Homo sapiens: one gene and its partners. The protein of the gene in region 1 purifies or fractionates together with the protein of each later gene. This does not show direct contact. Each region holds a gene or a part of one and is shown in the gene's direction. Other genes may lie near its edges.

The links. Proteins that work in one complex are often made in the same cells at the same time.
Region 2: the proteins of KDM4D (region 1) and RBM5 purify together in Homo sapiens (affinity purification with mass spectrometry; one large-scale study listed by BioGRID and IntAct). This does not show direct contact.
Region 3: the proteins of KDM4D (region 1) and SMCHD1 purify together in Homo sapiens (affinity purification with mass spectrometry; one large-scale study listed by BioGRID and IntAct). This does not show direct contact.

What each region holds. Positions count from the first base shown.
Region 1 is NC_000011.10:94,976,709-94,980,208, forward strand, and holds part of KDM4D (lysine-specific demethylase 4D), read left to right. Parts: intron 1-3,500. UniProt on the Homo sapiens protein: Histone demethylase that specifically demethylates 'Lys-9' of histone H3, thereby playing a central role in histone code. Does not demethylate histone H3 'Lys-4', H3 'Lys-27', H3 'Lys-36' nor H4 'Lys-20'.
Region 2 is NC_000003.12:50,109,419-50,112,918, forward strand, and holds part of RBM5 (RNA-binding protein 5), read left to right. Parts: intron 1-184; coding exon 185-270; intron 271-960; coding exon 961-1,045; intron 1,046-1,260; coding exon 1,261-1,352; intron 1,353-3,500. UniProt on the Homo sapiens protein: Component of the spliceosome A complex. Binds to ssRNA containing the consensus sequence 5'-AGGUAA-3'. Regulates alternative splicing of a number of mRNAs.
Region 3 is NC_000018.10:2,697,226-2,700,725, forward strand, and holds part of SMCHD1 (structural maintenance of chromosomes flexible hinge domain-containing protein 1), read left to right. Parts: intron 1-605; coding exon 606-816; intron 817-3,313; coding exon 3,314-3,434; intron 3,435-3,500. UniProt on the Homo sapiens protein: Non-canonical member of the structural maintenance of chromosomes (SMC) protein family that plays a key role in epigenetic silencing by regulating chromatin architecture.

The sequences.
Region 1 (3,500 bases):
TAGTTTGGCCCTTGATTGCAAAACTTTCTATTTTTATGGCAGGAGTAGCATAGGAATTCCAGTTTAAAGCTTAAACAAAATCAACACCTAAAAGGGAAAATAGAAACCATAAAAACCTAAGAAGAAAATTTAAGAAACTATTTATAGAACCTAGAATTTGGAAAGACCTTTCAATCAAAGCAGAACACCTTAAGAGCTTTAAAAGAAATACTTTTAAAAATTCATTTATCCAACAATTAATTTTATAGCTGTAGATGCCAAAAACAAGTCAATAAATTCTAGATTCGCAAATAAATTTTGTAATGCCTATAACATATAAAGGATTACTGCTACTGCTAGTGATACACATAATATAAAAATCACAAATTACCCAATTAAAAAATGGACAAAAGATATAAGCAGGCCATTCAGAAAAAGCAATTTCAAATAGACAAGTCAATAAACATGAAAGACACTCAACCTTCTAATGAGGAAAATGAAAGTAAACTAAAAATGGATTATCACATTACAGCATCCGATTGGCAACAATTAAAAAAATTAATAACATAGTTGGATGGGATTGAGAGAAAAGGGGATCCAGTCAGACAGCGGGGGGCATTGGTCCCCCATTACCCTCACAGTAAAAGCCAAGGTGTTCACAATGGTTTCCAAAGTTTTCTATGGTCTACCCTTTCCCCTACCTCTTTGACCTCATCACTTGCTCATGCTTTTCATGGCTACCTCCTTCATATTGTTGCTTGGACACGCACACAGCTGCTCCTGCTTTAGGGCCCTCACACTAGCTATTTTCTCTGCCAAGGCTATTCTTTCCTGTCTTACTCAAGTCTTTGTTCAAATGGAGTCCAACGAACCTTGGGCATCTCTACTTAAAATTGCAACTGTTCTCCCTCTCTGTCCCCTAACATTCTGTACTCCGTATCTCCCTTCCCCTCTTTCTTCTTTTTATCTTTTAAAATTATATTATATATAATTACATGGCATTTATCATCTTCCATGACCCTATATAATTTAGTTATGTTACATTTATTGTCTCTTTCTCTACTTCTCCCATGTAGAATATAAGTTCTAAAAGGGCAGAGATCTTTGTTTTGCTCAGTAATATAGGTCAAGCATTAAAACAATGCCTGGCACCAATAGCTACCCAATAAACAGTTTCCATATGAGTGAATAAAAGAAAGAATGAATGGACGAATGAAAGAATGAATTAGTTTTAAGAGGAAAAAATTGTGTTCTGTTGTAAAAAGTTATTGCCTTAATCTATTTTATATTTTAAAGGAAAAAAGTAACTTACATTGTATTAGTCTGAAATCCCGATTTCAAATGAAGATATGATAAGACCCAGAAATATGACTTTCTTTCGGGAGAGAATCTCTAAATGAAAAAAATCATATGAGATCAGGCTTTATATGTACCATCAAAATCCTAATTAAATCAGCCCTAATCCAATCACAACTCTAATCCAACTCTCTCCATCTCTTCCAGTTGAATCACTGTCTCCAATTCTACTAAACTCTCATTTACCAAGTTATTGGCCCACAAAATGTGAACATTTTGCTTAAAAATGTTTCTTTGTGGCTTTTAAATAGGAATACGAAAAAAAAAATGCCCACATGTCAGAAATTACATTTTAAAATAAAGTAACATAAATAATGAAATCTACTTCAAATTTTTAACCTGAAAATGACACATTTTCTAATATAAAAAACTAGTGCTTTCTTTGATGTTTTGACAAGTGAGAATATAAAAATAAAGTGTCTAGCCCTCTACCAACAAAATCTTGATTTTAAATGAAGACATTCTAGGGCTTAGAGAGATTATTTCCTGGAGACAGCCTCCAAATGAAATATCATTTGCTGATGGTCCAGGCTGGGTTACTGGATAATGTCATAAGTTACTCACCTCTCATCTAATCTAATCACATAAATACCTCACCAGCTGACCAGTGTACTACTGCGAAGACAATTAAAATCAAACATATTAAAAATAGTTAAAACTAAAAAACTAAAATGTAGAAAATAGAGATAGAAAAAGACATGCCAGGCAAATTCTAATTTAAAAACCTTGATGTAGCAATGTTAGTTAGCAAAAGTATTCTTAGGTTGAATAACATTAATAGGGACAAAGAAGTGCATGTATTATATTACGAAGAAAAATCCACTAGGAAAATTACTATCGGACATGTATGCAGCTAATGACATAACTTGAGAAAATATGAAGCAAAAGTAAGAAAAAGTGACAAATCTAAAATCATGGTGGGAATTTTTTTAAGATAAATTTCTCTCAGACGAGCAGATCAAGCAAACAACAACATTGATCTACTATATAAGTTATATGTGTGTACATATATGTGTGCATTATATATGTATGCTTATTGTATTTCTATGTGCATGTAAAAAGTTCACTGTAATCAGAGCAGAATATATATTCTTTTCAATAAACATTGAATATTTACAAAAAGTAATCAAGTATAAAGCCCTCCCCAAATTTCAACAAATGCCAATGTATGCATTTCCTTTTTTATTTATTTATTTATTTTTTTGAGACAGAGTCTCACTCTGTCACCCAGGCTGGACTGCAGTGGCACAATCTTAGCTCACTGCAACCTCCTTCTCTCAGGCTCAATGGATTCTCCTGCCTCAGCCTCCCGAGTAGCTAGGATTACAGGTGCGTGCCACCATGCCTGGCTAATTTTTGTATTTTTAGTAGAGATGGAGTTTCACCATGTTGGCCAGGCTGGCCTCGAACTCCTGACCTCAAGTGATACACCTGCCTCGGCCTTCCAAAGTGCTGGGATTACAGGTGTGAGCCAGCGCACCTGGCCCAATGTGTGCATTTCTAAATGATAATAGTCTTGCCAATTTTTAAATTTTATATAAATGTTCAAAATGTTTATGTAAATGAATATGTATTCCTTTATGTTTTTGCTTTATTCCTCCCACTTAATGTGTGCTATCTGTAGCTCTGATATACTATTTAGAGTTTCATTGTATAAAAATACACACCATAACTTGTTAATTCTAGTAATTATCTTTTCGTTGTAGTGATAATTGCAAATAATGCCACAATGAACATTTCTGTAAATGTGCAAAGGTGCATGTGTGTGCATTTTTCATATATATATTTCATCAACAGGAGATGAGAGTTCTTGTTCTATAATCTCACCACACTTGATTGTCCGGCTTTTCAATTTTAGCTCATTTGGTGGGTATATAGTGATATATCATTGAGGTCTCAGTTTGCATTTCCCTGATTATTAATTCACATGTTAATTGTCCATTTGGATTTCTTCTTCTGTGAGGTATCTGTTTAAATCTTTCTATTGAATCATCTTTTCTTTATGGATTTCTATGATTTCTTAAGTTTAGGCATAGTTCTCTGTCACTTATTTGTGCTGCATATACAATTTGCCACTTCTCTGCTTCTCTTTTTGGAACCACTTTTAGAGTGGTTCAATTATCATTCTTTTCCTTTTTGCTTAATGCATGGTATTTCTTGATTAT
Region 2 (3,500 bases), on another chromosome or scaffold:
TCACATCTAGTAGAATTATAAGAAAATGAAAATGTCACAGATTCCAGGGTACTTAGTGGAAGTTAGCTTATGAAGAACTGACATATACAATGACAGAAGAAGGCTAGATTGGGCATTACAAATAAAGATGTTTGGGTTGGCGTTCAGTGCCTTGGCTTTCCCTAACACTTGTGTTTATCATCAGGCACAGCAGTGACCACCACCTCAGCGGCTGTAGTGTCCCAGAGTCCTCAGCTGTATAATCAAACCTCCAATCCACCTGGCTCTCCGGTAATCCTGTTGTCCTATATACAAAACTCGTGGCTGATGGGGAAATTTTGTTTTGCTATACAAGTATTACCCTTTCCTGTTGTATGAGCCAGGATTGAGTAATACACACTTCAACCTTATTTCTTTCTGTTGTTTTAAAATATTAATTTTATGATATATATGTGCATGTATATTTTAAATATAAAATTTCAACTGTGTATTTACACTTTATGCATGCTTGACCTTTAGAAAGTTGTCGCCGGGGCCGGGTGTGGTGGCTCGCGCCTGTAATCCCAGCACTTTGGGAGGCCGAGGCGGGTGGATCACGAGGTTAGGAGATCAAGACCATCCTGGCTAACACGGTGAAACCCCGTCTCTACTAAAAATACAAAAATTAGCCGGGCGTGGTGGCACATGCCTGTAATCCCAGCTACTCGGGAGGCTGAGGCAGGAGAATTGCTTGAACCCCGGAGACGGAGGTTGCAGTGAGCCAAGATTGCGCCACTGCAGTCCAGTTTGGGCAACAGAGCAAGACTCCTCTTGAAAAAGAAAGCAAAAAAGTTGTCAACATGTGTTTTGCTGAGGGATTGCCTTAGATTATTGCTACAGTGTGTCTGTCAGGGGAGCCCTTCCTCCTGGATGATTGCAGTGATTTAGCTCTCTTAAAAGGCTTTACAGTTGAAATTATATTGAAGCTGCTGTTCTTTCCAGACTGAGGAAGCACAGCCTAGCACTAGCACAAGTACACAGGCCCCAGCCGCTTCCCCTACTGGTGTAGTTCCTGGTACCAAATATGGTAAGCCAAACCTCATGGGGCTGTTGACAGTTGGAAGGTCTTAGTTGTTGTCTTTGTTTAATGAGAGTTCTTCTCCCTTTGCGGGTGTCAGAGGGACACTTGGGGATGTGAGACAGAGAAGAAACATTAGGCCTGCTGCATCTCACTGGCTTAGAATTTGAAATAAAGCCAATTTCTTACCTGGAATGACTGTATGCTGGATTTTGTTTTTGCAGCAGTACCTGACACGTCCACTTACCAGTATGATGAATCTTCAGGATATTACTATGATCCGACAACAGGGCTCTATTATGACCCCAACTCGCAAGTAAATGTGCTGCTTTCCTCCTCAATTTCACTAGAAGTAGTTTCGCTTAGTGCATTTATGAGGCATAAAATGAAATATTTCCTGCAAAAGAATATATGACTCAGATTAGTTTTAACTTCTTCAAAGCCACCAAAATGTAATTTTTATATGGAGATTGTAAGTTTTAATTGTAGGGTTAAAAAATGTTTTGAGGTATAATATACACACAAAAAAATACACAAAACAGAAATGTGCAATTCTTTGAATGTTTATACATGTCTATACATTTGTATATTACATGTGTATATACACCACCACTTATTCCCAGCCCACCTAATCCTCATGCCCATTGCTGGTCAGTAACCTATGTCTTCAATAACCACTATTTTGATTTCTGTTGCCATAGATTATTTTGTCAAGTTACAATTTATGGAAAGACCTAGCTAGAAATTTTAAATTGTACTTTTCTCCCTATTGTTTAACCTTTTAGAGTGTACAAATCAGTGGCTTTTAATATATTCACAGTGTTGTGTAACTGTCACCACTGTCTAATCTCAGAACATTTTCATCACTCGAAGAAGAAACCCTGTACCTGTTAAACAGTCACTCCCCATTCTGTACTCTCCTCCAGTAACTACTAATCTACTCTCTGTCTCTATGGATTTGCTTTTTTTATTTTTTTTGTGGCACGATCTTGGCTCACTGCAGCCTCCACCTCCTGGGTTCAAGCAATGCTCCTGCCTCAGCCTGCTGAGTAGCTGGTAGCTGGGATTACAGGCGCCCACCACACCCAGCTAATTTTTGTAGTCGAGACAGGGTTTCACCTTGTTTGCCAGGCTGGTCTCGAACTCCTGACCTTAAGTGATCCACCCGCCTCAGCCTCCAAAGTGCCAGGATTACAGGCATGAGCCACTGTGCCCAGCCCTCTGTTCTTGACATTTCATATAAGTGGAGTCAGACAATAGATTACCTTTTGTGTCCAGCATCCTTTACTTTGCCTCCCTGTGTATTCTTGAGGGTAGAATTTAGCAGATGTATGGAGTGATGTTTTATTTTTGGTGGCATATATAACTTTTAAAAGGGAAAAACAACTTTAACACCCCATAAATAACTCTATTTATGACCGGGAGCTGTATATATAGAACAGTAATAAGTATTTTTAACAGGAACTTGGCATTGATAGGTTGTGGTTTCTGAGAGATTGAAGTGTGAAGCTGTGTGTGACGTGCCTAAGCAGGCCAAGCCTCTGCATACCTCTTCCATCCACTTCTCTCATTTGTGAAGCCTGGCCATTTATTTCCCTGTCAGTTCTTTTTTTTTTTTTTTTTTTTTCCCGTCAGTTCTCTTTGGTGGCCTTAGAAGTTGTGTCTGTAGGCTGGGCGCAGTGGCTCACGCCTGTAATCCCAGCACTTTGGGAGGCCAAGATGGGAGGATCACTAGGTCAGGAGATTGAGACCATCCTGGCTAACACAGTGAAACCCCGTCTCTACTAAAAAAAAAAAAAAAATACAAAAAAATTAGCCAAGCGTGGTGTCGAATGCCTGTAGTCCCAGCTACTCGGGAGGCTGAGGCAGGAGAATGGCGTGAACCCGGGAGGTGGAGCTGGCAGTAAGCGAATGTCGCGCCACTGCACTCCAGCCTGGGTGACGGAGCGAGACTCTGTCTAAAAAAAAAAAAAAAAAAAAAAAAAAAAAAGTTGTGTCTGTTAGCCACGCCACCTTACCCAGAAGAGACAGACACTGTCTCCTGGGTCCCTGTTGAGCAGATAGAGTGAGCGACTGGAAAATAGAGGAGAGGATATGTGACACCTCTCCTCTGTTGCAATTCCTGCTGAGCTTGGGTCCCTTCACCAACACCTCCTTCCAGCTCTGTGCTAGTGTTTACACCCTGTGTGTGGTTGCCTGGTATCCAATGGATTCTATGTGGATGGGCCCAATGATGAGCTGTTGTCATGGCAGATGTCTGAACTCCATGACACGCCCACCTGTTCTGGCTGCCTGGTTTATGTAAATAGTCTGTGGAACAGAGTGAGACAAATTGCTCTTTGGGTGCCCTCTAGGTAGGCCCAGGGATTAAATTAATGGGAACTAGACTTTTTAAATTTTTATTATCATTTTTTTTGAGATGGAGTCTTACTCTGTTGCCCAGACTGGAGTGCAGTGGCATGAT
Region 3 (3,500 bases), on another chromosome or scaffold:
CTCTCCTTGTTTTTTACCAAACTACTTTCATTGTTTGATATCCAACTAAAGAGATTATTCCTAGATGTATTTTTCTCAAACCTTTATTTACTGTAGGCTTGGTTTATCTTTTTTTGTCTCTCTTCTGTGGAGCTATGCATTGTTACTGAACATCAATCATCTCTTGAAGCATGGAGGAAAAGGGAGATAATGTAGCTTTCCTTTTGTTTGTAGAAGTTATATCGTGGTGACAAGGTTTAGCAGCACAGAGCATTTGAGTATTGGATTCTCAATCCTCTAACCCACACGTTAGAATTTCACATACGATGTTGTCCCACTTCCTACCTCTAGCAAGAAACCTCGAATTAAATGTACTCATGACTTTTCTGTCCTTCAGCTCTGATTTGCTGTTTCTTTGCTTACTTTATATTTTTTAGTAGTATGTTCCTTATTGAGATGCTACTTAAAGCTGTTTAACTCATATGTAAATATATGTATTTCATTAAGCCAGATTGTTACTTGTACAAATAAACATAATTTTTACTTATTCTGTTGTTGAATCATAGCTGAGAACAAAAGTAAAGTTACCATAGAATTTAATTATTTTTGTTTCCTTTTTATTTTAGATTTCTATGTTTGAAAAAGGGAAGGTACCTAAGATTGTCAACCTAAGGGAAATACAAGACGACATGCAGACGTTGTATGTAAACACAGCAGCTGATAGTTTTGAATTCAAAGCTCATGTTGAAGGAGATGGTGTAGTGGAAGGGATTATCCGTTATCATCCATTCTTATATGATAGAGAAACTTACCCTGATGATCCATGCTTTCCATCAAGTATGTTAATCTGTTATCTTAGTTATAAAATATGAAGTTGTAATTTAGGACAGTGATTTGTTTTTCTAAATGATTATCGGTTGGGTTATTCAGGTTAGATAAATATTAAATTTTTTCTTATGCAAGTCTTAGATTGTTAGGTATTTGTAATTTTTGTAATTCCTGATTTTTGTGTACATTCATTTCTAGATGAATAAATCTTTAATGAACTCTTCTTTTAGTTCTGTTACGAAACCAAACTTTTAGATATGTATGCGTATTAATCCTTTATATGTTCCCTTGTCTTCTCTTTATCCTTGTTGCAGTTTTACACTTTATGCAGTCATATTTACTAACTTTTTCTTTATGCTTTCTGATTTTGTCTTACTGTAGAAAGGCTTTTTACATCTCAAAATTATATAAATCTGTAGCTTTTTTGTTTTTGTTGTCATTTTATGGTCAATGCATCTGTGTTTTTCTTTTTTGTATGTAGAGCAAGGTGGGGTTTTATTTATTTATTTAAATTTTTGAGTGATGGGGTCTTGCCGTGTTGCCCAGGCTGGTCTTAAGATCCTGGCCTGAAACAATCCTCCTGCCTTGGCCTCCCAAAGTACTAGGATTACAGGTGTGAGCCACCACACCTGGCCCCCACCTTTTTTTCCCCCCCCAGTAGAGAGATAGGGATTTAACAATTATTTTCTATGTGGTATTCATATTCAGTTTCTTAGCACCAGTTATTGAATGTTATAATTTACCCAAGAGTTAGAACTTGTATAATACAAAGTTCCCATAAGTACATAGGTCTAGATTCTTTACTATAAAGTACTATTTTATTTTTTTTTAATATGAGTAATGATACTGTCTTGTAGCTTTATCTTGTAATTTGGTATCTTTGGGAAAAAACATTTTCACTATTGTTCCTTTTTGAGAATACTTTTGCTCTTCTAGATAATTTTGGAATCAGCTTTGTACATTCACTTGAAGTAATTCTAGTGAGATTATTGGGATTGCATTGAATTTATAGGTTAACAATATTAAACTTTTTCATTCAGAATACTTCCTTAGTACATTCTTGGTTTTCTAGGGCCTGCAACCAGAGATCCTGATTCGAATCCCATCTTTGCCACTTTCTGTTGGACAAACTACTCCCTGCCTTAGTTTCCTTACCTGGGAAATGGGTAGTTCACACCTCATAGGGGTGTTGTGAAGATCAAATTTAAAAACTGGGGCAACTTCTCAGAATAGTGCTCAACACTATTTATTAAGTGCTCCTGCCCAGTACATATTGTTACTCAGTGGCTCCACTGGCCTTTTTGGTTTTGTTTTTTATTTTTTGGAGACAAAAGTCTTGCGTTGCCACACACGCTGGAGTGCAGTGACACAATGTAGGCTCACTGCAGTCTCTGCCTCCCAGGTTCAAGCAATTCTCATGGATCAGCCTCCTGAGTAACTGGGACTACAGGTGCCCACCACCATGCCAGGCTAATTTTTTGTATTTTATTAGAGACAAGGTTTTGTCATGTTGCCAAGGGTAGTCTCAAACTTCTGAGCTCAGGTAATCCTCCCACCTCAGCTTCCCAAAGTGCTAGGATTACAGGCGTAAGCCCCTGTGCCTGGCCATCTCTGACCTCTTAAATTTGCTGTTTCCAATTTTTGTGTGCTAATAGACAAAAAGATATAATTTTTTTCAAATGCTGCCTTAAAAAGAAGAGCAAGTAAGTTGAGTGATCAATCAGAGGGATTCTCCTCTAAGAGCAAAGTGATTTTGTTTGATTGAAAGCAGCTTTTATATAAGGGACTTCTTGTGAGGGCTTTTAGGGAGAAGGTTTTGTTTTAGGTGGGTAAACTAATTCCAGGGTAGCTGAGGTGTTAATATGTCAGGATCACATTGTTTAATCCTAATTTATCTGGATACACGAGAGTGTGTTGCTAATAAACATAAGATTATAGACAATTGTGCAAATTAATGCTCTTGATGCATAGTAACATGTCTTACAGTTCTGTGTACATTTTTCATGCTTACTTGAATCTGAAAATAATTTCTAAAAAGTAAACTTAATTTTAGCATCATTCACTAATTTGTTCAAACTAGGTAAACTCGCTGCTATTAGATGTCATAGATTTCTCAGATGACTTTCATGTGAACATACTAGTTCTGATAAAATTGTGAAACTGTTTTAGATACGGGATTTAAGCTCCTATATTTGTAGGAAGGAGGGATTTTGTTATAGGGGATAATCTTTTTGGATGTAAGACTCTTTTAGCCTCATGAATAGGTTTTAAAGATGACAGGCCCAGCAGCTAGTACATTGGTTCATATATAAGTAATTATTGACTTCTAAATGACAGACAGCATTCGTAATGTGGAACCACTTTGTAAACCTACCTTTTTGTGGGCAAACAGTATAAAACTACCTTTAGGTTTTATAGAATGCAATTTGAAACATTTATGTGTTTGTTTCATTATTTCTCACATTTTAGCAATAAACATTTTGTTCCATTTGCCCTTTTGATCTAGAATTAAAAGATGAAGATGATGAAGATGATTGTTTCATACTTGAGAAAGCAGCTAGAGGGAAAAGGCCTATTTTTGAATGTTTTTGGAATGGACGATTAATACCATATACATCAGTTGAAGAGTAAGTTTGATTTTTGCTGAAATTATGTTTTTACAACTTAATTCTTTTACTAACTAACATTTTGTT